Linked DNA regions of Homo sapiens: all the other regions are reported to be linked to region 2. The links are microRNA targets in miRTarBase. Many come from high-throughput screens and were not tested one by one. Region 2 holds a microRNA gene; each other region holds the end of a gene's coding sequence. Distances are between the middles of the regions.
Evidence for each region. The annotated mature microRNA hsa-miR-4733-5p reads AAUCCCAAUGCUAGACCCGGUG and lies in region 2 at 1,322-1,343, opposite strand. An mRNA with a match to its seed (bases 2 to 7 or 8) in the 3' UTR can be bound and repressed. Matches are read on the target gene's strand: a 7mer-m8 pairs with bases 2 to 8, a 7mer-A1 pairs with bases 2 to 7 and ends in A, and an 8mer does both.

Region 1 (3,000 bases), not on the chromosome of region 2:
AATGCGGGACGATGATCGACTTTGGCCGTGACGAGGCCCCTGAGCCCACTCAGTTCCCCATTCCTGAGGTGGGCAGCCCTCACCAGGGCCCTGTGGCCACACCCAGACAGAGACAGAAGCCAGCATCCCCAGCCATGCCCAGGCCAGATCTGCCAGGCCCAGCCAAGCCCAGACAGGGAACAGACAAGGTTTTGTTTTCAGTCAGGGCATCCCTAGCAAGGGAGGTGGCTCCTGATGAGGCTGGCAGCACCCCACACGGCAGGCAGCGCCAGTCAAGGCTGGCAGCCTGGGTCCTCCATGCTCTCCAAACCAACTTCTTGGTATTTCCCTCCAGGTCAAAATCCTAGACCCTGATGGTGTGCTGGCGGAGGCCTTGGCCATGTTCAGGAAGACAGAGGAAGGAGATTGATGCCAGGTGAGGGGTGGGCACACCTGCCAAGTTCTGATGTGGCTGAGGCTGCTCCAGGGCCCAGAACAATGCACAGATCTCCTGGGGTCTCCAAAGGGCTTGGGGTCGGGGAGTGGGGGAGCAAGACCATCGAGGGCAGGCTTCTTGCCTCCTACAGTCCCAGGTGTCCTTTTTGACGCTTCCTCTTCAAAACCCCTTTTGACCGGCTGTGGTGGCTCTTGCCTTTAATCCCAGCACTTTGGGAGGCCAAGGCAGGCGGATAAGTTGAGGTCAGGAATTTGAGACCAGCCTGGCCAACATGGTGAAACCCCATCTCTACTAAAAATATAAAAGTTAGCCAGGTGTGGTGGCAGGCACCTGTAGTCCCAGCTACTCGAGAGGCTGAGGCAGGGGAATCACTTGAACCCGGGAGGTGAAGGTTGCAGTGAGCTGAGATTGCACCACTGCACTCCAGCCTGGGCGACAGAATGGGACTCTGTCTCAAAAAAAACAAAACTCGCCAGGCACAGTAATCCTATAATCCTGTAATCCCAGCACTTTGGGAGGCCGAGGTGGGTGGATCACGAGGTCAGGAGTTCAAGACTAGCTTGGCCAAGATGGTGAAACCCCATCTGTACTAAAAACACAAAAATTAGCTGGGCGTGGGGGAGGGCACCTGTAATTCCAGCTACTCAGGAGGCTGAGGCAGAGAATTGCTTGAACCTGGGAGGCAGAGGTTGCAGTGAGCTGAGACTGTGCCACTGCACTCCAGTCTGGGTGAGACTGTGTCTCAAAAAACAAACAAACAAACAAATAAACAAACAAACAAACCATTTCACTGAAGACCAGTGCATTCCAGTCCTGCCTGAAACCTTCTATTTGCACCCTGGGCCACACAACTGAGCTGGGCACGGGGTTGAAAGGAGGTGGTCTCCTGGCTTCTGAACACCCTTGAGTAAGGCAGTTGGCCTTCAGCCTCCATTTACACATCTGTCCAGTGGGGTCTTGTCCAGTCCAAGTCCTCCTGGGCATGATGTGAGGGTTTGAGGAGAGGACATTGGTAACAGCGTCTTTCAAATGCCAGCTCCACCATCCCTCTCTCCCCTGCAGAGAACACAAACGCTTCAGGAGAAATTCAAGCCTGTGTCACCCGATCGCTCAGACCAGTGCGGCTCTGGCTGGAGGAGTCAGCAGCAGCTCCAGGCATGACCCCGGCACCCTCATAGGGCCCCTCACTACCCCCAGCACTGGGTCATTTCTTGCCAATAGGAAGGCTGGTGCTTCTCTCCCAGGCTGTCCTCGGGACCCTCTTCATTCTCTGATCTCATCCTGGAATGCATGAGAATAAAGAATAACCAAGTGGTATAAGCCTGGGCCTATGGGATAAGGATGGGGCACTCGAGGGGGCTCAGCAGGGCTTTCAGGTTTAGAAGAGGGAAGACCTGCCTTGGCTGGGCTGCCTGGGTTTAGCTTGGGGGAGTAAGGGCAGGTCTTAGGCCGGGTGCAGTGGCTCATTCCTGTAATCCCAGAACTTGGGAGGCCAAGGTAAGAGGACTGCCTGAGGCCAGGAGTTCGAGACCAGCTTAGGCAACATAGCAAGACCCTGACTCTACAAAAAAAAATTTTAAAATATAAAAGAAAGGAAAAGAAAAAGAGAAAGAAATGGCAGGTCCCCTGTGAGATAACCCAGATGACCCAGAGAGAAGGCCTGTATCCTGCCACACTGGCTGCCAAGATTGGAGATCATAAAATTTCCTGACCACTTCTCAGCCTAACACAGGGCTCTCAACCTTGAAATCCCATGGAAACTTTGCAAAGCTGTGGAAGCCCAGGTCCCATGCCCAGAGATTCACAGGTTCACATCTAATTCATCTGGGGTGAGGCCTGAGCTTTCAGAAAATTCCCCAGGTGATTTTTTTTTTTTAAGACGTAGTCTCCCTCTATTGCCCAGGCTGGAATGCAGTGGCGCGATCTCAGCTCACTGCAACCTCTGCCTCCCATGTTCAAGCGATTCTCCTACCTCAGCCTCCTGAGTAGCTGGGATTACAGGCGCATGCCACTGAGCCCAGCTAATTTTTGTATTTTTAGTAGAGATGGGGTATCACCATGTTGGTCAGGCTGGTCTTGAACTCCTGACCTCGTGATCTGCCCCGCTCAGTCTCCTAAAGTGCTGGGATTACAGGTGTGAGCCATCGAGCCTGGCCTTTTTTTTTTTTTTTTTTTTTTTTTTGAGACAGAGTCTTGCTCTGTCACCCAGGCTGGAGTGCAGTGGCACAATCTCGGCTCACTGCAACCTCGCCTCCCTGGTTCAAGCGATTATCCTGCCTCAGCCTCCCAAGTAGCTGGGATTACAGGCACCTGCCACCAAGGCTAATTTTTTGTATTTTTAGTAGAGACAGGGTTTCACCATGTTGGCCAGGACGGTCTCGATCTCCTGACCTCGTGATCTGCCCGCCTTGGACTCCCAAAGTGCTGGGATTACAGGTGTGAGCCACTGCTCCCAGCCAAGATCAGATGTTCTTGCATAATGGGCAGGTGAGCTCTGGAGTCACAGTGCCTGGGCGTGAATCTCGGAGCTGTGTGTTCTCAGGAATGTCACCCAAACTCTGTTC
Region 2 (3,095 bases):
TGGCTTTGTGGCTTTTCTGTAGGAAAATTAAAATTCTAGTTTTGTTCTCCCTTATCACCCAGTGTCTGTGTGGCTTAACTGGCTGATTAGCGCGTGCTTGGAATGTGTAAATTCATTTTAACATTGGCCTAGGGGCCTGTGTGGTAGCTCACCCCTGTCATCCCAGCACTTTGGGAGGCCAAGGCAGGGGGATCACTTGAGGCCAGGAGTTCCAGACCAGCCTGGGCAACATAGCAAGACTGTGTCTCTACCAAAAAAAAAAAAAAAAAAAAAATTAGCCAAAGCAGGGTGACACTCACCTGTAGTCCCAGCTATTCAGGAGCTTGAGGTGGGAGGATCACTTCGGCCCAGGAGTCTGAGGCTGGAGTGAGCTATGATTGAGCCACTGCACTCCACTGCACAGAGTCAGACCTTGTCTCTGAAAAACAAAAACATTTGCCTAGGTAAAATGTATCGAGGAAGACAAATTTTAAAATTACTCATTCCAGGCCAGGTGCGGTGGCTCACACCTGTAATCCCAGTACTTTGGGAGGCTGAGGTGGGCGGATCATGAGGTCAGGAGTTCAAGACCAGCCTGGCCAATATGGTGAAACACCGTCTCTACTAAAAATACAAAAATTAGCCGGCTGTGGTGGCGCATGCCTGTAGTCCCAGCTACTCGGGAGGCTGAGGCAGAAGAATCACTTCAACCGGGAGGCGGAGGTTGCAGTGAGCCGAGATCGCGCCTCTGCACTCCAGCCTGGGTGACAGGGTGAGACTCTGTCTTAAAAAAAAAAAAAAAAAATTAGTCATTCCAAAGTCCAATGTCAGACATAGATTATCCGTTGTTTTGGATGTAATCCTCTTCCTGGAAAACTGGCACAACCCAATTACACATGAAATCCTTTCAACTCTGGTATTGGAGGTATAGGGAAGGACTTTGTTTTAGGAGACCCATAGTCTACCTCTATTGTTCTAGGAGTTAAACCACGTTGGTTTACATCCTGACTTTGCCACCTGTCAACTCAGACCTTGGGCAAATCAAAGGTCTGAGGGAGGAGTGCAGGCTCCCAGCGTTCCCACGGGGGTGGGGACGTGACGTATTCATCAGTTCATGAAGTTAATGATATGTATTGAAAAGGTTTGTTCAAGGATTTAAATAAGACGATGAATATATTGAATTAATAATGAATGCAAGGCCTTAAAGGTGTTTTGAGGGTGGTGAAACTTGAATCTCTCATCAACTGTGCAATAGTTATATTAACTTGGATGGCTATGAGTTTTGCAGAGGAAAGCTGGGCTTAAATCCCAATGCTAGACCTGGTGGCTAGACCTTGATTGCCACCGGGTCTAGCATTGGGATTTAAGCGACCTCTAAAAAAAAAAAATCACGGAATCTCTCTTTGGCCTTCCTTTTTTGTTTCTCAGCAGTCTACCAAGCTACGAAGAACCTGAAAATCGGAGGTCGTGTACCTTATTTTTTCTGAGAGCTTAAGCTGAGAGCACAGCCTCCCCAGGAGATTAGCGGCAGAGATCCGCGCGCTGGGAGAAAGGCTAGCCCCAGGGCGCCCTAACTTCCAACTCCGGGAGCAATCCAAACCCGGAGGCCGGCGGGGGAGGGGACAGCTGTAGGGGGCGGTGGGGATGGGAGTGGATGCTCCCGGGTCAGCTCTGGCACTCGCCAGCTGAGCCCAGCGCCAGTCTAGGTGAGCCCCACGGCGGTGAGGGACGCTCGCCAGACGGCCCAGAGGAGTTAGATGACGTCACCTCCAGGAGGACTCGCTTTTTCATTAATGAAACCGGCCGGCGCGGGCGCATGCGCGGCAGGCCGCCTTCCCTCTCGCTTCCCCCTCCCCTTTCCCAGCCGCGCTCTCAATCTCTAGCTCGCTCGCGCTCCCTCTCCCCGGGCCGTGGAAAGGATCCCACTTCCGGTGGGGTGTCATGGCGGCGTCTCGGACTGTGATGGCTGTGGGGAGACGGCGCTAGTGGGGAGAGCGACCAAGAGGCCCCCTCCCCTCCCCGGGTCCCCTTCCCCTATCCCCCTCCCCCCAGCCTCCTTGCCAACGCCCCCTTTCCCTCTCCCCCTCCCGCTCGGCGCTGACCCCCCATCCCCACCCCCGTGGGAACACTGGGAGCCTGCACTCCACAGACCCTCTCCTTGCCTCTTCCCTCACCTCAGCCTCCGCTCCCCGCCCTCTTCCCGGCCCAGGGCGCCGGCCCACCCTTCCCTCCGCCGCCCCCCGGCCGCGGGGAGGACATGGCCGCGCACAGGCCGGTGGAATGGGTCCAGGCCGTGGTCAGCCGCTTCGACGAGCAGGTAACCGGCCCGTGGCGGGCGGGAGGTGGGAGCGGAGTGGGGGTGGGGACAGAGTAGGTGAGGGGAGGTAGGAGCGGCCGCCTCCCCCGCGGCTGCCTCAGGCTCTGGAGGAAAGGAAGGGAAGGGAAGAGAAGGGAAGGGGGGATAAGTGGGGGTGGCCAAGGCGGGAGGTGAGGGGTAGGAGGGGACAGCTGGGAGCTTGGGCACCCTTTCCCTCCTAAGTCGGGGGGTGGGGCCTTGTCCCTGACCAGCCTCCGACCCTCCATCCCCTTTATCCCAGCCCTTCCGCTTGGAAATGGGGATGAGTGACCTGGGGGCGCCTTTAGGGGCGCGCCATCTGGATTTAATAATTACCCCCTTACTTTTGTTTTTGAGCAGAGGTGGGTAACGTTTAGGGGTTCTCTCTTCCTCTTCCCTCCGTGACCCTCCTAACTGGGGACGAGCGAACCCTAAGGCCTGTCTTATATACCCTCAATAGGAGAACGATAACATTCCGCCCCTCCCCCAGTTTCTTCAGCTTCCTCTCCTGGAGGGGGAAGAGCAGAAGAAAGCAAGGAAGGCACAGGTTTTCTTACTTTCTGCTCCATCGTCTCATCCTGCCCCGAGAGCTTCAAGTGCACACTCACTGCACATCTTTGTGATGCCCTACAACGTCGTCCCCCATATCCTGATGACACAGACTGCCTTTTTTTTTTATTGCCGTTTGCAGTGGAAACCGTGGTTCTGAAATATCTTCCCCTTCCTTGATAATTGCAGTCTCTTCCCCCCCCCCTTTTTTTTTTGCCAGCGGTCTGAGGAT
Region 3 (3,095 bases), not on the chromosome of region 2:
CAATTATAGTACTGGAACAAAAGTGAAGAGTACATATATTTTCACGTAGAAAAAATACATACAAATCCAAGTAGCTCCTAAAAATAGAAATCAGATGGGCATTTTTAAGAAAAAGATTGTTTTCTAAACTGTAAATGGTGCCAGTAAGACACTGATTTTTATATCTAGCTACATCACCATATTTATGTACAAAGAGAGGTTGGTATAGGTTCACTGATACCCCCAATTTCTCCCATTTCTTTAAAGATTGTCTTTCAGATCCTATTAAAACCATAACTGTTAATTTTTTAGACTACTTCCTGTCACTGGCACACTCTCTTCAACCTGGCACATACAAAAATTCATTTCAACATCTATTTACTTTTTTGATGCTAAAACTAACAATTTTTCGGCTACTTCAATGCCACAATATTCTATCACTACTTTGGCATTTTACTAATTATTATAGAAACAGGTAAGATTCTAAATATGGATTTTAAGACTATGTAAAATTCCAACTACATATGTCAAAAGGGAAAGTAGGAAGGTAGACACAATTATATTTTTGTTTTCATGTATATCATTGTCATGAGTCTGAAGCCTCATGTTGCATTCTAATTTACAACTGACATTGGTGACAGTTTGCTTGGCTTCTAGACTCAAACCCTAGAATTTATTAGTGGCTTTTAGATCAATTTGCTGTAAAACTATCTGAAATGGTTGCAGATTATTTTAAGCAAAAACAGAATGATACCTATAATGTACAAATGGAGGTGGATTTAAAGAACATATTATTGAGCAAGCTCTATAATGACATTTTCTTAACATCATCATAGTTTTTCTTCCTAGAAGGGAAAAAACTTACTTAAAATTTTCCCCTTCTTTACTTAAAGCATTCTTAAGTATATTGACAAATGTTTAAATCAGTTCAAGCTCTCAGCTGTTGGAAGATCAAAACACAAAGATAAGCATTTTCAACACAAACATCAAAAGATGAACAGAATTGCTTTCCATGTAATAGTTAATACCTTAATACAATGAACTTGTCAGGATTTTGCGACATATTGTATAGCTGGACAATAAAGCATGAAAATATTTTTTAAAAATTAAGTGAAGATATTCCCAAAGTTGAGATGTCCCCTACAAGAAACCAATTTTTAAATTCCTGTAATACTGAAAAGCTAAATTGCCACTATTGTAATAAAGTGAACCAAATTTTTAAAATAATTTTATCTTATTGAGAAACTAATTTTAACGCAAGCACTTTAAATGTATGTGCTATACAACACTGCATCTTATTTTCCAATTGGATATGTCTTACCACTCTTCTAACAAGTTTGAAAGAAAGAGGTCTGTCAACAGACACGAGCAAATACTTATAAAGTCTCAGGTCTTGCTCTATCACATACTAGCCAGTCCTTAAACACTTGATATATACCCACATTAAAAGGTGTGCTAAATATCGTCATGTTTTAGATGAAATTATGTCCTTAAAAGGTTGGTTTCTGTAGGATTTAAGGAGAACTTAAACTTTGCTGCTTTAAACTTTAGTTTTGCTATCAGTACAAATGTGTAAAACGCACCAAGAAGAAATCATTCCCATAAAAATCTCATCACTATATAATCGTTGACAGCACTTGCTGCCCTCCTGAGATTTTAGGAGAATAAAACTATATAAAATGCACAGTCATCAAGTCATCTTCAAGCTATTTTAGTATCCCACAAACCATTAACATAAAGTTCATACATGGTTATCTAAAAACACCATGGAGTCAAAGAGAAGCAAGAGTTAACAGTAAGTCAAATAAACCAATGATGTTTAACTGAGATTTTTTTAAAACTTAAGCTTTCTTAAGTTTCAAAGACAGTTTTACTTAAACAGAAACTGTCTTTTATAATCTTTTTGTCTTTTATATAATCAAGATTTTCTTGGCAAATACATCTCTTTTCGTAAACATACATAGGTAGAGAAGTTTCATATGTAGGTAGAGCGGTTTCATAAGCATACATAGGTAGAGAAGAAAACACTAAGGTTCTTTTCTACAACTGATAAAAAGCAAATACTGAAGATGAGAAAATGCCTTTAAGCTTTCAAATAACACTGTGGCATTTTAAAGTGTGTTATTTAAAAACAAAAAAGCTAGTCACCAATACTGTCATTCTCTCATCAGTTATGCTCAATAATCACAGAAACCCAAAAGGAGGCCCTAATTCTTTATTCTCTCTGCTGTATCTCTGCTCTATTTGCTACTAATGAAGCAACGTTATGACATGTAATTAAGATGCAAACAAAGAAAACCATAAAGAAACACTTGCTGTTAATTAACCTAGAAATAAAAATCAGACAAAATTAAAAACAGCCATTTCCAAACTAAAAACCAAAAAAATCTTAAAGAGCTTTGAAAAAGATACCAACTTGACCCTATAACACATAAAAACGAAAATTGATTTTACACATTTTAATCAATTTAATACAAATACCTGATTTATACTTTTACACCAACGGGCTAAGTCCCAAGTTCCAAACTGTAGTTCGCATGACTCTACAGAGGGGATCTTTGGAAGGATAAGGTACCTTTGGAGAACAGTGTATAAACAATTGTAAACATACACTGATTGTCCACTAGCTTTCTTAAATAGAATTTCTGAAATATTTTTGTAGGAAATTATATATAAGAGTGTAATTGATCAGATAATTCCTATTACAACATATAAATTCTGTTGAATGTGCAAAATGTGGTAGAAATAGAAGATACAGTGGATGATTTATACTTTTAAAGTAAGTGCTACATTACAATCCAGTAAAAGTCCTTTAATCTTTTCATGAAACTTCTCTCTATACAAATTGAAATACATAATGCTTTCTGGTTCTTCTTCAAACCAAAACTTGTCAAATTCATAGACAAGATAACCTGCAGTTAAAGAAAAACAAAACATTTAATCCTCAATGTTGAAATCACATTCAAACCGTCTCATCTTTACAAAGTATATAACCATCCTTTAAATTCCATATTAGAATACAATAATCAAAAGTAATCTCAAAACTATTAGAAGCCTGAGGGACTTAATAAGACTTAATAAACGATTTAGTGTATATTTACTATTTGTCTCAAAAA
Region 4 (3,095 bases), 570 kb from region 2:
GGGTGGTGGTGGCGATGGGAGCTGGCTATGCCTGTGCCTCCCTGCCAGAGTTCCTCCATTCCTGGCCACGCTGGCTCCCACCCTGACCTGAAGCCTGGCAGTAAGCCCTCAGTGCTTGGGAACTGTCATCGTCCTTTTCTTCTCCCTCTCTCTCTATTACTATTCTTATTTGTGTTACACACAAGACTGGGAGATGTGTATTGGTTAGGGGCCTTGAGCCGCAGCGCGTTCCCGGTTTGGGCAACTGCATCTGCTAAAGATTCCCTTGGTGTGAGTTTCTTCCCCATGCCTTTCATCACTGTTTCTAGACACCACTGATCTCTATTTTTGTGATTCCTACGACTTTTCGCCAGAGAGGCTTCTTCCAAATATGACCTTAATAAAGATTTCCCAAAGATCGTTTTCCTGCTGTAAACAGCCTGATCCAGAGGATCAACCTGAGGAAGCGGCGGGACTCGCTCATCCTAGGGGGTGTTATTGGGATCTGTACCATCCTGTTGCTGCTGTATGCGTTCCATTGATGGGACATCTTCAGGGACTCTTGACAGCCACCGCTTTCACACCCTGGTCTGGAATAAGGAAACATCGGAGGGAGAAGTTGACTGTCTTGATAATTAGCCTGACCAGCAGGATGAATGCAAGACTGACAGTGATGGACTCTGTGACATGGTCAGGTTGAGCTGAAGCCACAGTTTCTCTGTGCTGTGTTTTCTAACACATTTTTCTGTTTTTAATTAAAAAAAAAAAAAAAAGGTTTTCAGTTGCTTTTGTCTCCCTAGGAGGCAGGTAAACCAATCAAAAACAGAGTTTTCTGTGTTTCCATGATAGTGTTGAAGCCTAATGACAAGCCAGGTCTTACAGCTGGGCTCTTCAGAAAACCAGGTTTCTACATCCAAAGACTGCTTTTCTTTTAGCTGCCAGATTGGATTGTGAATAAAAATAATTCTTCCCTCTCCCTCTCCCTCTCCCCACGGTCTCCCTCTTTCCACGGTCTCCCTCTGATGCCGAGCCGAAGCTGGACTGTACTGCTGCCATCTCGGCTCACTGCAACCTCCCTGCCTGATTCTCCTGCCTCAGCCTGCCGAGTGCCTGCAATTGCAGGCGAGCGCCGCCACGCCTGACTGCCTCGGCCTCCCGAGGTGCCGGGATTGCAGACGGAGTCTCGTTCACTCAGTGCTCAATGGTGCCCAGGCTGGAGTGCAGTGGCGTGATCTCGGCTCACTACAACCTCCACCTCCCAGCCACCTGCCTTGGCCTCCCAAAGTGCCGAGATTGCAGCCTCTGCCCGGCCGCCACCCCGTCTGGAAAGTGAGGAGCGCCTCTGCCCGGCCGCCATCCCATCTAGGAAGTGAGGAGCGCCTCTTCCCAGCCGCCATCCCATCTAGGAAGTGAGGAGCGTCTCTGCCCGGCCGCCCATCGTCTGAGATGTGGGGAGCGCCTCTGCCCCGCCGCCCCGTCTGGGATGTGAGGAGCTCCTCTGCCCGGCCGCGACCCCGTCTGGGAGGTGAGGAGCGTCTCTGTCTGGCCACCCCGTCTGAGAAGTGAGGAGACCTCCGCCCGGCAGCCGCCCTGTCTGAGAAGTGAGGAGCCCCTCCGCCCGGCAGCCACCCCATCTGGGAAGTGAGGAGCGTCTACGCCCGGGCAGCTGCCCCGTCCGGGAGGGAGGTGGGGGGGTCAGCCCCCCGCCCGGCCAGCCGCCCCGTCCGGGAGGGAGGTGGGGGGGATCAGCCCCCCGCCCGGCCAGCCGCCCCGTCCGGGAGGGAGGTGGGGGGCGCCTCTGCCCGGCCGCCCCTGCCCGGCCGCCCCTACTGGGAAGTGAGGAGCCCCTCTGCCTGGCCACCACCCCATCTGGGAGGTGTGCCCAGCAGCTCATTGAGAACGGGCCATGATGACAATGGCGGTTTTGTGGAATAGAAAAGGCGGAAAGGTGGGGAAAAGATTGAGAAATTGGATGGTTGCCGTGTCTGTGTAGAAAGAAGTAGACATGGGAGACTTTTCATTTTGTTCTGTACTAAGAAAAATTCTTCTGCCTTGGGATCCTGTTGATCTATGACCTTACCCCCAACCTGGTGCTCTCTGAAACATGTGCTGTGTCCACTCAGGGTTAAATGGATTAAGGGTGGTGCAAGATGTGCTTTGTTAAACAGATGCTTGAAGGCAGCATGCTCCTTAAGAGTCATCACCACTCCCTAATCTCAAGTACCCAGGGACACAAACACTGCGGAAGGCGGCAGGGTCCTCTGCCTAGGAAAACCAGAGACCTTTGTTCACTTGTTGATCTGCTGACCTTCCCTCCACTATTGTCCTATGACCCTGCCAAATCCCCCTCTGCGAGAAACACCCAAGAATGATCAATTAAAAAAAAAATAATATAATAATAATTCTTGTCCTCTTATTTTACACTCATAATGAGAAATCACAAGTTCTTTCTTGATGATCTGTGCTATAGATTTCTACTCTGTCTCCTCAACTCTGTTGATATTTGGGGAAAATTCTGTTTTTCATAGATTCTTTGAGATGCTGATGGACCAGCTTCAGCATGTTTGAGGTTGTCTGAAATGGAGATCACTGTAAAACTGTCTTTTTCTTTTAAATTACAAGTACACTGGGGTTAACTGTATTGCTGGAAAAACATCAAGAATGACAGTCTTATATTTAAGGCACCAGTCATTGTTTCCATTTTTTTTTTAATTCTTCCCTTGGATTAATATTTTCTACTGAAAAGAAATGAAATCTCAGTTCCACTATGATAAAAGAAACGAATCACCAGTGTCTGTCAGTGCCCCCACTGCTCCTCCTCATACCAGCATTGACACTGGTAGCTGAGGAAGGGGACTGCTCAATTTCTAATGTGATCTATTCAAGAAGCCACATATAAAAAGGCATTGAGGGCTCACTGTCCAGAGAATTGCTTTTGTAAATGCTCCACAACGTATGGGCAAAAGTTTAAGGACTACTGCCTGATGTACCAGGAATCCTGAGTTCTGTGAAAATCTGTTCATTCCAAATCTGTTAAGCATTTCCAAACATCCAGAGAATGGTTTCACTGTTGAGGGTGCATGTGGCAGAATCTGTCTCTCTCTGCACCTGTCTTC
Region 5 (3,095 bases), not on the chromosome of region 2:
TTTATCTGCTATTTCCTACTTTGAATGTGTATCTGCTCCCTGGAGGTACAGCAGACATCTTGTGACCATGAGGTGACAAACCAGCATGCTGTAGAGGACAGAGTGGAAAGAGAAAAAGTCTACGTCCTTGATAGCACCAATGAGCCACTGTCCCAACCCTATACTGCCTAATTCTAGGCTATAAATAGGATAGGCCTTTTTTTTTTTTTTTGCTTAAGCTAATATTAAATATTTGTTTAACTAGTTTACTGTCACCTGCAAGCAGAACATATTCTGAAATGAGAGACAGCAAGATTGACAGTGAGCAAATTAGCCTGAAGGCTATTACAGTAACCCAGAAAAGTGATGATGATGACTTGAGGGAGAGTAATTATAGGATTAGAGAAGACAGAATAGATTTGAAGGAGCGGGAGGTAGAGACAATTTTGTTTTAGGCACATTGACATTGGCATATCTATGGGATGTTAGGTGAATATAACTAGTAAGTAGAAATAAAGGTCTACAGCACTAGAGAGATATGGGGGTTGAAAATATGAATAATAAAACAAATGGTGCCTGAAGCCAGTGAAGTCTGTTAAATGAAAAATGAGTGTGCATATAGAATGAGAAAATAGGACTAGGGATGAAACTTGAGCAGCCTCAGCATTTAAGGGATTCAGAGCAAGAGAAGAAAAATGAAGAATAACAAAAGCAGGAAAAATAGAGAGCAAAGGGATAAGTGAGTCTCAAGGAGAGAGTGGTGAAGAGTCAATAATGACATAAAAATTCAAGTAGGGGCTGGGTGCGGTGGCTCACGCCTGTAATCCCAACACTGTGGTAGGCTGAGTCGGACAGATGCTTGAGCTCAGGAGTTCGAGACCAGCCTGGACAACATGGTGAAACCCTGTCACTACCAAAAATACAAAAAATTAGGCATGGTGGCGGGTGCCTATAGTCCCAGCTACTTGGGAGGGTGAGATGGGAGGATTGCTTGATCCTGGGAGGTGGAGGTTGCAGTGAGCTGTGTTTGTGCCACTGCACTCCAGCCTGGGCAACAGAGCAAGACCCCATCTCAAAAAAAATTAAGCAGGTATGGAGGCCAGAATGTCACAAGACAGAGAGGACTTGAAAGTAGGGAAAAAAGGGACAATATTTACTTTTGTCAAAAAGTAACAATTACTTTTTAAAGAAGTATAACAATTATAGGAAGGAGAGAGAAAAAATAGTTCAAGGGAAGAGGCCAAGTTAAGGAAAGGTTTTTGTCTTGTTTTGTTATTGTTGATTTAAGACAGAGAAGACCTGCAGCTATGTAGAGGTGGAGGAAAGAAACTACAGTATCTACTACCCTATTCTTCTAACCTATTCTTCTAATTTGCTCACTGTAAAAAGAGAAACCGAAGACTAGAAATTAAACAGGGTGGAATATGGTCTTAGATGGGAAGGAATGAGGTCAAGAACACAAAGAGAAGCATGTCTTAGAAAAGGGGGATGCATGGCTGAAAAGAGGTAAGTCTTGAAGGTAGATGGGAAGAAGTTTTGGGAATGGTCATATCTAATAATTTAGTTTTTTCTCTATGAAATAGGAGGCACAGTCAACTTTGACAGTTCTAAGAGGCTTGAGAAGAATAAAACGTTTGTAATACCTCTTCCAGGGAACACAATAGTAAACCACTTAGGAACCAGTAGAAGGATTGCTAAGCAGTATTAGGAAGCCTGTGTAGCATATGGCCCTCTCAAATAGGTAGAGATGTTTTTAGATATTTAAGAGGAATTAACATTAACAAAACCAAGGGACAAAGCCAAGCTCAAGTCCCATAAAACATGGATATTTTATTCCAGCTCTAGGAAATGGGAAAAAAAAAAAAAAAAAAAAAAAAAAAAACAGAGGGAAACACACCTTTCCATACACCATTCTAATTTAACTAGCATTAATCTGGGAAAGCTAGAGCAGAAATATATGTTTATATGTATAAATATGTATGTATTTATACATATATATGTATAAATATGTATGTATTTATACATATATGTATAAATATGTATGTATTTATACATATATGTATAAATATGTATGTATTTATACATATATGTATAAATATGTATATGTATTTATACATATATGTATATGTATTTATACATATATGTATAAATACGTATTTATACATGTATAAATATGTATGTATTTATACATACATATATATATATGTATTTTTAGATTTTAATCTCACTAGAATTCATGTCTTCATTTTTTTTTAAGTGCCCTTAAAGGTCATCAAATGCAAGCTAATACTTCTACCTAAGTCTCCTCATCAATCATTTAATATTGTTTACACTGCATTCACAGTTTGTGTGTTAACCACTTATGTAATTTATCAAATGGCATATTTGGAAATGTAAGGGAGAAACTTGGTTTAGGTAATACTCTATGTATCAGTTACCCATTACATGATTTATTTTCATCATTATTTGCAACGCCACACATCTTGTAGTTTTCTGTGTAGTCTCTGCATGCAGTCTACTTCAGCTTCTAGTGCTGTACATATCTATATCTTCTGGGTGGGACTGCCCGTGATCCATGAGCTTGGGGTCAGGCATAAACTGGGTTGCACCTGATAAAGTATTAAAATGAAAAGAAAAATTAGTCACTTAACAAATTTATTTTTGATACTGGGAAGACAGCAGCGAACAAACCAGATAAAAATCTCTAGTGACACAGACCTAACATTTGAGTTAGGTGAGACAGACAAACTAATTAAATATATATCAGATGGTGGTTAAGTGCTATGTGAAAAAATGAAACAAGGAAGGATATATGGAGTGCTTAGGTGATTTGTAATTTTAAATAGGGCAGCCAGGGAAAGCCTTCTGGAAAGGTGATACATGAGCCGAGAACTGAAGGAGGTGAGGGTGTGCACCCTATAGATACCAGCAGGCAATGCCTTCCAGGATGAGCAGACGGCAAGTGTAATGGACCTGAGGTATGTCTGAGGAACCAATATGGTTGAAACACAGTAGACAAATGTGGTGTATGTAGGGGTGGCGGCAAGGCAGTGAGATGATAGGAGATGTGATCAAAAAGACAATGGAAAGCTAGGTCACACAGGGCCATGGTAAAG
Region 6 (3,076 bases), not on the chromosome of region 2:
ATAACATTAGAAAAAGCCAGGACAAAAACGATCTGTCATCCTGAGATTGAGTTAAACTTGTCACGCCCCTTGTTACTTCCTGGTGTGTCATTAGTTCGATATATGCCTTTGCTCTCCCTCAGTAACAATAAATGTATTGGATTTTTTTTAAGGGCCGAGAAGCAATGGAATGGGTAATACATAAATTAAATGCTGAGATTGAAGAACTGACAGCCTCAGCAAGAGGAACCATAAGGACTCCAATGGCAGCAGCAGCGTTTGCAGAGAAGTGATCGTGACAGTTGGTAGACAACATCGGGTACTCCAGGTCTCTCCAAACTGACTATATATTTATTTGTTATTTTAAAAATACAACTATATTTTGGGTAGTTTTTTTTTTTTTTTTTTTGATAAGTTGGTGTAAGGCTATGTGACTTGATCAAAACAGATGCAGGGCCTCTAAATAAAAGGGATCATCTGAAATTAATGTTGTTTGAAATTACTATCTGATTTTGAGGGTTCCAGTATTTCTGTGAAAATTCAACAAGAACTCCTTGGAAACTGGTATTGATATTCAGTCTCCTTAAGGTAGATTTTTCAAGCTTTTCATACATTGGAACTCCACCTGACTTTGGACCAACCCCAGAACAGAGCAGAGCCACCTCCTATAGACGCCCATTGCCCTGCTGCTGTACACTTCAGCAGCTTGCACAAGGGAGCTCACTTAAAAGGAGAAATTGTGTAGTTTTAAAATATATTTTGTGTAAAATACCTTACTATGCTATAAACCACCATTAAAAACCAGTGTTTTGATTTGGTACTTAAATATTTTTGGAGTGAAAATTATCACTAAAGTAACATGACTCCAACAAAAGTATGGTTTCATTATAAAAGAGTACTGTATTGATTTGCCCAAGTTTTGTAACTTAGTAAAGGTATTAACTTCCTTGGATTTGTACTTTGTGATTTAGTATGCTGTATCGTGGGCTGGTTATGTTAACTGAAAAAAATAAAGTCATTACCTGAGTTTTGCAGTGCTCTAACTTAAACAGAAGAACAGCTGTTCACATCTTTTAGCATTTTACATTTGCCTAACTTAAAAATTGCCATGTGTCAAAATCATGGTTTTGTAATTGCTAAGGCATGATATGTCAGGTTATTTGAATATAATTACTTTTTGAAGTAATTGTGACCACAAAACATCTTTTTTACATGAAGGAGCTGTGTATCATTTGAAATTACTCAAATGATGTCTTGCTCTGAGGCATAAATCCCAGGTACTTAGTGTTTTTAATAATATGGTGCCACTGCAGGATTTGGGGGCGGTGGGGAAGAACAAGCATAATGGTAGGGGGAGGCTTGGCCTGAAACTAACCACTGAGTGAATTGCACTGCAGGTTTTACTTAACGGGAATTCCTTATTTGGGATGTCAAGAGGGCAGCTGCAAACTGAAAAACAATCCAGTAAATGTACTTTGTTTTATGTATTGTAGCAGGCAATTAACTACTAAATAATAGCTTTGACATTTGCAATTGTTGCATAGAGACTATTTTTGCTAGAAGATGATTAGCTCTTGCCTTTATTTTACAGTGCTTAGTGTGATAAACTTCTAGTCATGTTTCCTATCCAAGAGACCAGTTAATATATGTACATAAACCACAGAAATAGTATAACACACTATTTTTAAATTATCGTTTTCCTACTTAAATTTTGTTTAGCTTAAGACTTCTTAGGACATTTGTAAAAGCAGGTTAAATTTAATAAGGTTTCTGATTTTTTTTTGTAACCGGAGATAGTTTTTACAAGTGAAATAACATTTCAGCTAAATAAAACATCGCTAAATAATTGATATTTGATGAAAATCTGCTTTGTATAATTTCTGTAAATTATCCTTGTTCTGAAAAAGGTGTAATGCCCTAATATTTTTAAATCCTTATCCTTTGATTTTTTAAAAACTGACCTATTGATAAAACTATAAATTTTCATTTTCCAGTGCAGTTAGTTACCTTTTTAAACATAAATGCACAACAAGCAAATGAATTTAAGAGAACTAAACTGGAATAAGTGTTCATAAATGAAACCCTTGGACTATTTAATAAAGTTGAAATGTGAATTAAGGAAAACTTTTGTTAATAAAAACTTTCTTTTAAGTGATGTTTTTCCTGATTATAATTTCTTTTTAGTAATTAAAGGTGAAGGGCAAAGGCTTTTTTTTCTTTATGAGAGAAACACTTTAATTCCTAGACTGTGAGCCTTCACTGCGTTGGGTTAGTTTCTCTAAATCACAGGCTCTGAGATGAGCATTTTCCCGGCCGCCTGGCAGTTCCCTGTGCCTCCAGTGGGTTTTCCTCACATTTTTCTTCCCATCCATTCCGGGCAACAGTGACAACTGTTGCCTTACCCTCCGTCTTGTCGCACATCGGAAGCAGGTCCTAGAACTACAGAAAACGCTAGGGGGTCCTCCACTGGGTTTCCAGGGTTTAGTGTCACTCCGAGAAAGGGGGTGCCCTAAGAGCCTTTCTAAATCTCAGCTCTCAGGACACGCTTGTCTGTCCACAGATTTAAAAAAGCCGGCGCCGTTTCCCTGAAGCGGGCGCAAAGCCAGGCCCTCGGGGCGGCCGTGCCCGCGCCGCCTCGCGTCCTCGCTTCCCGAAAGCACGCGGCTCAGTGGTCCTTAGCGAGCGGGGACACCCCGGCCTTCTTGCCCCCGTCGTCCCCGCCGGGGTAATACGGAAGGTCGGGGGACACACGCCCCGGGAGCTCTTGGAGCCAATAGGTGGGCGCGGCCGGCCGGCCCGCCCCGGGATTGGCACCCGCAGTCCAGACCGCGCGCGCCCATTGGCTCCCGGCGCCGGGGGGCTTCCGCGGCAGGGCAGCAGGGGCCGTGCTCAGGGGCGGGGCCGGGTAGGAGGCGGTGATTGGCAGGTCCGCACGCCCCGCCTCTTCCGCTTCTGTGGTCTGATCTTCCTGCGGCTGAACCGCCCGGCTGAGCCGACATTGCCGGCGTCTTGGCGATTCGGCCCGACGAGCTCCGCTTTCGCTACAGCATGGTGGCCTACTGGAGACAGGCTGGACTCAGGTAGGCCCAGGCCTCCA
Region 7 (3,095 bases), not on the chromosome of region 2:
TGGCAGTGACAGCTACAGCATGACCTGGAAGACCTGAGAAGATTCAGGGTGCACGTTGAGTCGTGCTACACAGGATGAAGCTGGGGGAGGTCTGGGAGATTTCCAGGGCTGAGGCGGACAGCCTGTACCACGTTGCATTTTCTTAGCAACTCCCCAACTTACAGCCTATCGGATGCTGTTAGATTCTGACACATTTGGTACGAACCAAATGGCTATGACTTAATTGTGCATTGAAAACCGCATTGACAACCAGGAAAAACTGGGAGAATTTGATGCAATTGGTAGTGTTTCTGGTTGATACTGCAAATAAATAAATAAATGTATTCAAACTGAATAAAGCAATACATGATGTAATAAAAATTACTTAAACTAATTATAATACAAATATAGTAGGACCTTCTAAAAGCATGTACATAAATCATGTACATTTAAGAAAGGTTACAGCTACACAAACTTGTGATTTTACATTTGATTAATCCTAAGGAATTGACAGGCACTACACACTGGTCTTTCCATCAGAGAATGGACTTACTGAGTAACTGCAGCTTTTTCTCTCTAGAATCTAAGGGCTGAGAAGAGAGAATTTTAAATGTGGAGGAGATGTTAAGAATCAGTGTCCAACTCTCTTATTTTATAAACGAGGAACTTGAGGCCCATGTAAATTAACAGACAGTATTTATCTTTTAATAACAATCTTTATCACTGATATGAAGCTGTTTGACTTCCATAAATATTGCACATATTTTAATAAGATTTATAGACCATCTAACAGTTAAATTTATATAACCTATGATTGTAATTCAGAACCAGAGTTTCTAATGAAAACTAATAATTTGCTTTTGTGCAACCTGAAGGATTTATTGTATAAGATTCCTAAGAAAAATGGTGAATATGTTTAACTAGAATTTCAGAATGAAAACTTACAGAATCTGGGTCTTAATGAACCAAATCCTCTGTAAAATTCAACAATCTTCTATTTCTTATATAAGTCTTCTTAAAGTATTTCTAATATGATGCTTTTAAAATTATCTAGTGGCATCTGAGAACACTTATAGAAGCTGCAAAGCCTTAAAAACTGAATCATAATGAAATATTTATTATATACCTTCTTTTGCATAATCAAAGTTTCAAGACCTGAATCGTGAATATTCTGACAATCCTCTCTAGATAGTGAGTGAGATTCTTTTTTTTTCCAAGGCAGTGTCTCTCTCTGTCACCCAGGCTGGAGTGCAGTGGTTCGATCTCATTGCAATCTCCGCCTCCCAGGTTTAATCGATTCTCGTGCCTCAGCCTCCCGAGTAGCTGGGATTACAGGCAAGTGCCACCACGCCCGGCTAATTTTTGTATTTTTAGTAGAGACAGGGTTTCGCCATGTTGGCCAGGCTGGTCTCCAACTCCTAACCTGAAGTGATCCGCCCACCTTGGCTTCCCAAAGTGCTGGGATTACAGGCGTGAGCCACCGCGCCCAGCCGAGATTAATTCTTAATAAATTAAGAAGAGAGAAAACCTGTCAAGGTTGAAAATATGCACTGAAGGAATCAGATCTGGTAGTTAAAAATAAGTCACTTCACAGAACACTGTACCCTGACGCAATATCCACCCAGGGAAAATTAATGAGCACATCAATGTAATACATCCTGAATAAATAATGACATCAACAATAGCCACTTTGTCTAATCCTACCCCTAAATGTCAAGCATTTTGTCATATTACTACATGACTTTCCAGTGTCTGCTACTTGTGCAGGTGAATCTGTAGGTATTTGCATATAATCCAGTTAAAACTGTGATCTGATTGAATTGTAAACAGAATTGACAAGAGAAACTTATTGTAGTGCCTAATATCACTTACATTTTAAGAAGACAGTATGTAGCAGCAATTTAAAATGCTCAGTAAACTATAGTACAAATGGACATCTATACTATTTAGCAAACCAACATTCCTTTAATATCTCTATATCATAGTGACACAAATGAGGAATTACTTTACATATTGCCAGTTTATTTCTTTGAACCAGTTTAACAATATCAACATAATTGATTACTAAACTGACATGATATGTACTCAATGGAGACTTTTCTTTCCATTCTCCTGTTTAGTGCAGAGGAGGTTCTTTGGTGCCTTCCTAACAACAGCTCATCTATGGAAGTTATACTTTTTATACCATTCAAACTCAGTGCTAAGGATTTAAAATAAATGCTGCCAGCTGAAGACACATTTTTCTCCTCCTTTCCTTCCTCCCTTCCTTCCATCATTCTCCTGTATGTAAACTCACGGTACCTAGTTGGTTAAGGATGAGTGTTGCTATAAAGATAACACAGCACGAAAGAGCCTATCTTTGTTTCCAAAGTGATGAAAGTATTCTAGGGAGATTTCCAGTTAATGACTTCTCATTTGGGAGATAATCAGTACTTTCTCTTTAAAAATGTATTTTCAGTAACTCACTGGAAATAATGGGTTCTTATTTCGGGCAAGAAATGTATTGTCAATTTTTGCCTGGACATCACTTTCAGACCCGTGAAATGAAGCCCAGGCCGAGGCTGGCTGGAATCTGGATGGTTTCTAGTGCGAGGGAAGATGGGTTGAAAGGAAAGGTGACAGGAAAGATGTGTTTAGCATCCATGAGCAGCTGGGGAGAGTCTTTCCTGTCTCGTAAACGCATCTGAGAAGATTAGGAAAAAAAATAAACAGAGCATCAGTTCTTTGAATCTAAAAGACTTTTTTCTACTAAAATTTCTACCCTCAAATTCTCAACTAATGAAGAATGTTTACTTTTGTTTTAAACTCACTTCATTTTCCCAATTAACTATTATCAAAAAAGTTAGTGCATTGTAAAATAAGATAATAAAAGATAACACATTATCCTTCAATAAATTACAAAATGTCCATTCAAAAGACTGTGTTGGTGAATCAAAGAAGAAGATGGGAGCTCTTACCTGTATAGTACGAATGAACGACACAGAGACTCTTTCTTCAAACTCATTAACTGGAGTATACAAATTCAACACTTTCACAATCTGTGAGAAATGAAATGATCAAAGTTTTTGGCATATTATCAAATACACACTGGGTACCTATAATCTGGAAAATTAAAA

Region 1: miRTarBase lists MORN3 as a target of hsa-miR-4733-5p. Seed matches in the 3' UTR shown: 7mer-A1 at 1,768-1,774.
Region 3: miRTarBase lists ELMOD2 as a target of hsa-miR-4733-5p. Seed matches in the 3' UTR shown: 7mer-A1 at 1,695-1,701.
Region 4: miRTarBase lists GOSR1 as a target of hsa-miR-4733-5p. Seed matches in the 3' UTR shown: 7mer-m8 at 2,032-2,038.
Region 5: the mRNA of APOOL is a reported target of hsa-miR-4733-5p. Seed matches in the 3' UTR shown: 7mer-m8 at 803-809.
Region 6: the mRNA of PRELID3B is a reported target of hsa-miR-4733-5p. Seed matches in the 3' UTR shown: 7mer-m8 at 1,402-1,408.
Region 7: the mRNA of MYO5A is a reported target of hsa-miR-4733-5p. The part of its 3' UTR that is shown has no 7-base or 8-base seed match.

What each region holds. Positions count from the first base shown.
Region 1 is chr12:121,650,143-121,653,142 of GRCh38, reverse strand. MORN3 (MORN repeat containing 3) reads left to right here. Exons shown (of 6, transcript NM_173855.5): 4 at 1-68; 5 at 335-415; 6 at 1,499-3,000. The coding sequence ends at 409. Among named protein-coding and RNA genes, the nearest start is that of MORN3, 18 kb to the left of the region's middle. RefSeq lists enhancers at 1,069-1,568, 1,569-2,070.
Region 2 is chr17:31,093,074-31,096,168 of GRCh38, forward strand. It overlaps MIR4733 (microRNA 4733), which reads right to left and starts at 1,352; the gene lies at 1,277-1,352. NF1 (neurofibromin 1) reads left to right here and starts at 1,904. Exons shown (of 58, transcript NM_001042492.3): 1 at 1,904-2,296. The coding sequence starts at 2,237. MIR4733HG (MIR4733 host gene) reads right to left here and starts at 2,417. Exons shown (of 4, transcript NR_186435.1): 1 at 2,154-2,417; 2 at 300-418. LOC124903974 (a long non-coding RNA gene) reads left to right here. Exons shown (of 2, transcript XR_007065704.1): 2 at 1-54. RefSeq lists a promoter at 1,484-1,909, cis regulatory regions at 1,517-1,756, 1,983-2,293, an enhancer at 1,897-1,914 and silencers at 2,149-2,218, 2,259-2,308.
Region 3 is chr4:140,550,026-140,553,120 of GRCh38, reverse strand. ELMOD2 (ELMO domain containing 2) reads right to left here. Exons shown (of 9, transcript NM_153702.4): 9 at 1-2,891. The coding sequence ends at 2,746. Among named protein-coding and RNA genes, the nearest start is that of UCP1, 17 kb to the left of the region's middle.
Region 4 is chr17:30,521,858-30,524,952 of GRCh38, forward strand. GOSR1 (golgi SNAP receptor complex member 1) reads left to right here. Exons shown (of 9, transcript NM_001007025.2): 9 at 397-3,095. The coding sequence ends at 521. Among named protein-coding and RNA genes, the nearest start is that of GOSR1, 46 kb to the left of the region's middle.
Region 5 is chrX:85,087,083-85,090,177 of GRCh38, reverse strand. It overlaps APOOL (apolipoprotein O like), which reads right to left. Exons shown (of 9, transcript NM_198450.6): 9 at 1-2,588. The coding sequence ends at 2,500. Among named protein-coding and RNA genes, the nearest start is that of APOOL, 85 kb to the right of the region's middle.
Region 6 is chr20:59,032,203-59,035,278 of GRCh38, reverse strand. PRELID3B (PRELI domain containing 3B) reads left to right here. Exons shown (of 6, transcript NM_016045.3): 6 at 153-2,134. The coding sequence ends at 272. It overlaps ATP5F1E (ATP synthase F1 subunit epsilon), which reads left to right and starts at 2,944. Exons shown (of 3, transcript NM_006886.4): 1 at 2,944-3,059. The coding sequence starts at 3,028. It overlaps SLMO2-ATP5E (SLMO2-ATP5E readthrough), which reads left to right. Exons shown (of 6, transcript NR_037930.1): 4 at 153-307. RefSeq lists a silencer at 2,701-2,990 and an enhancer at 3,011-3,076.
Region 7 is chr15:52,311,187-52,314,281 of GRCh38, forward strand. It overlaps MYO5A (myosin VA), which reads right to left. Exons shown (of 42, transcript NM_001382347.1): 41 at 2,937-3,017; 42 at 1-2,662. The coding sequence ends at 2,510. Among named protein-coding and RNA genes, the nearest start is that of MYO5C, 17 kb to the left of the region's middle.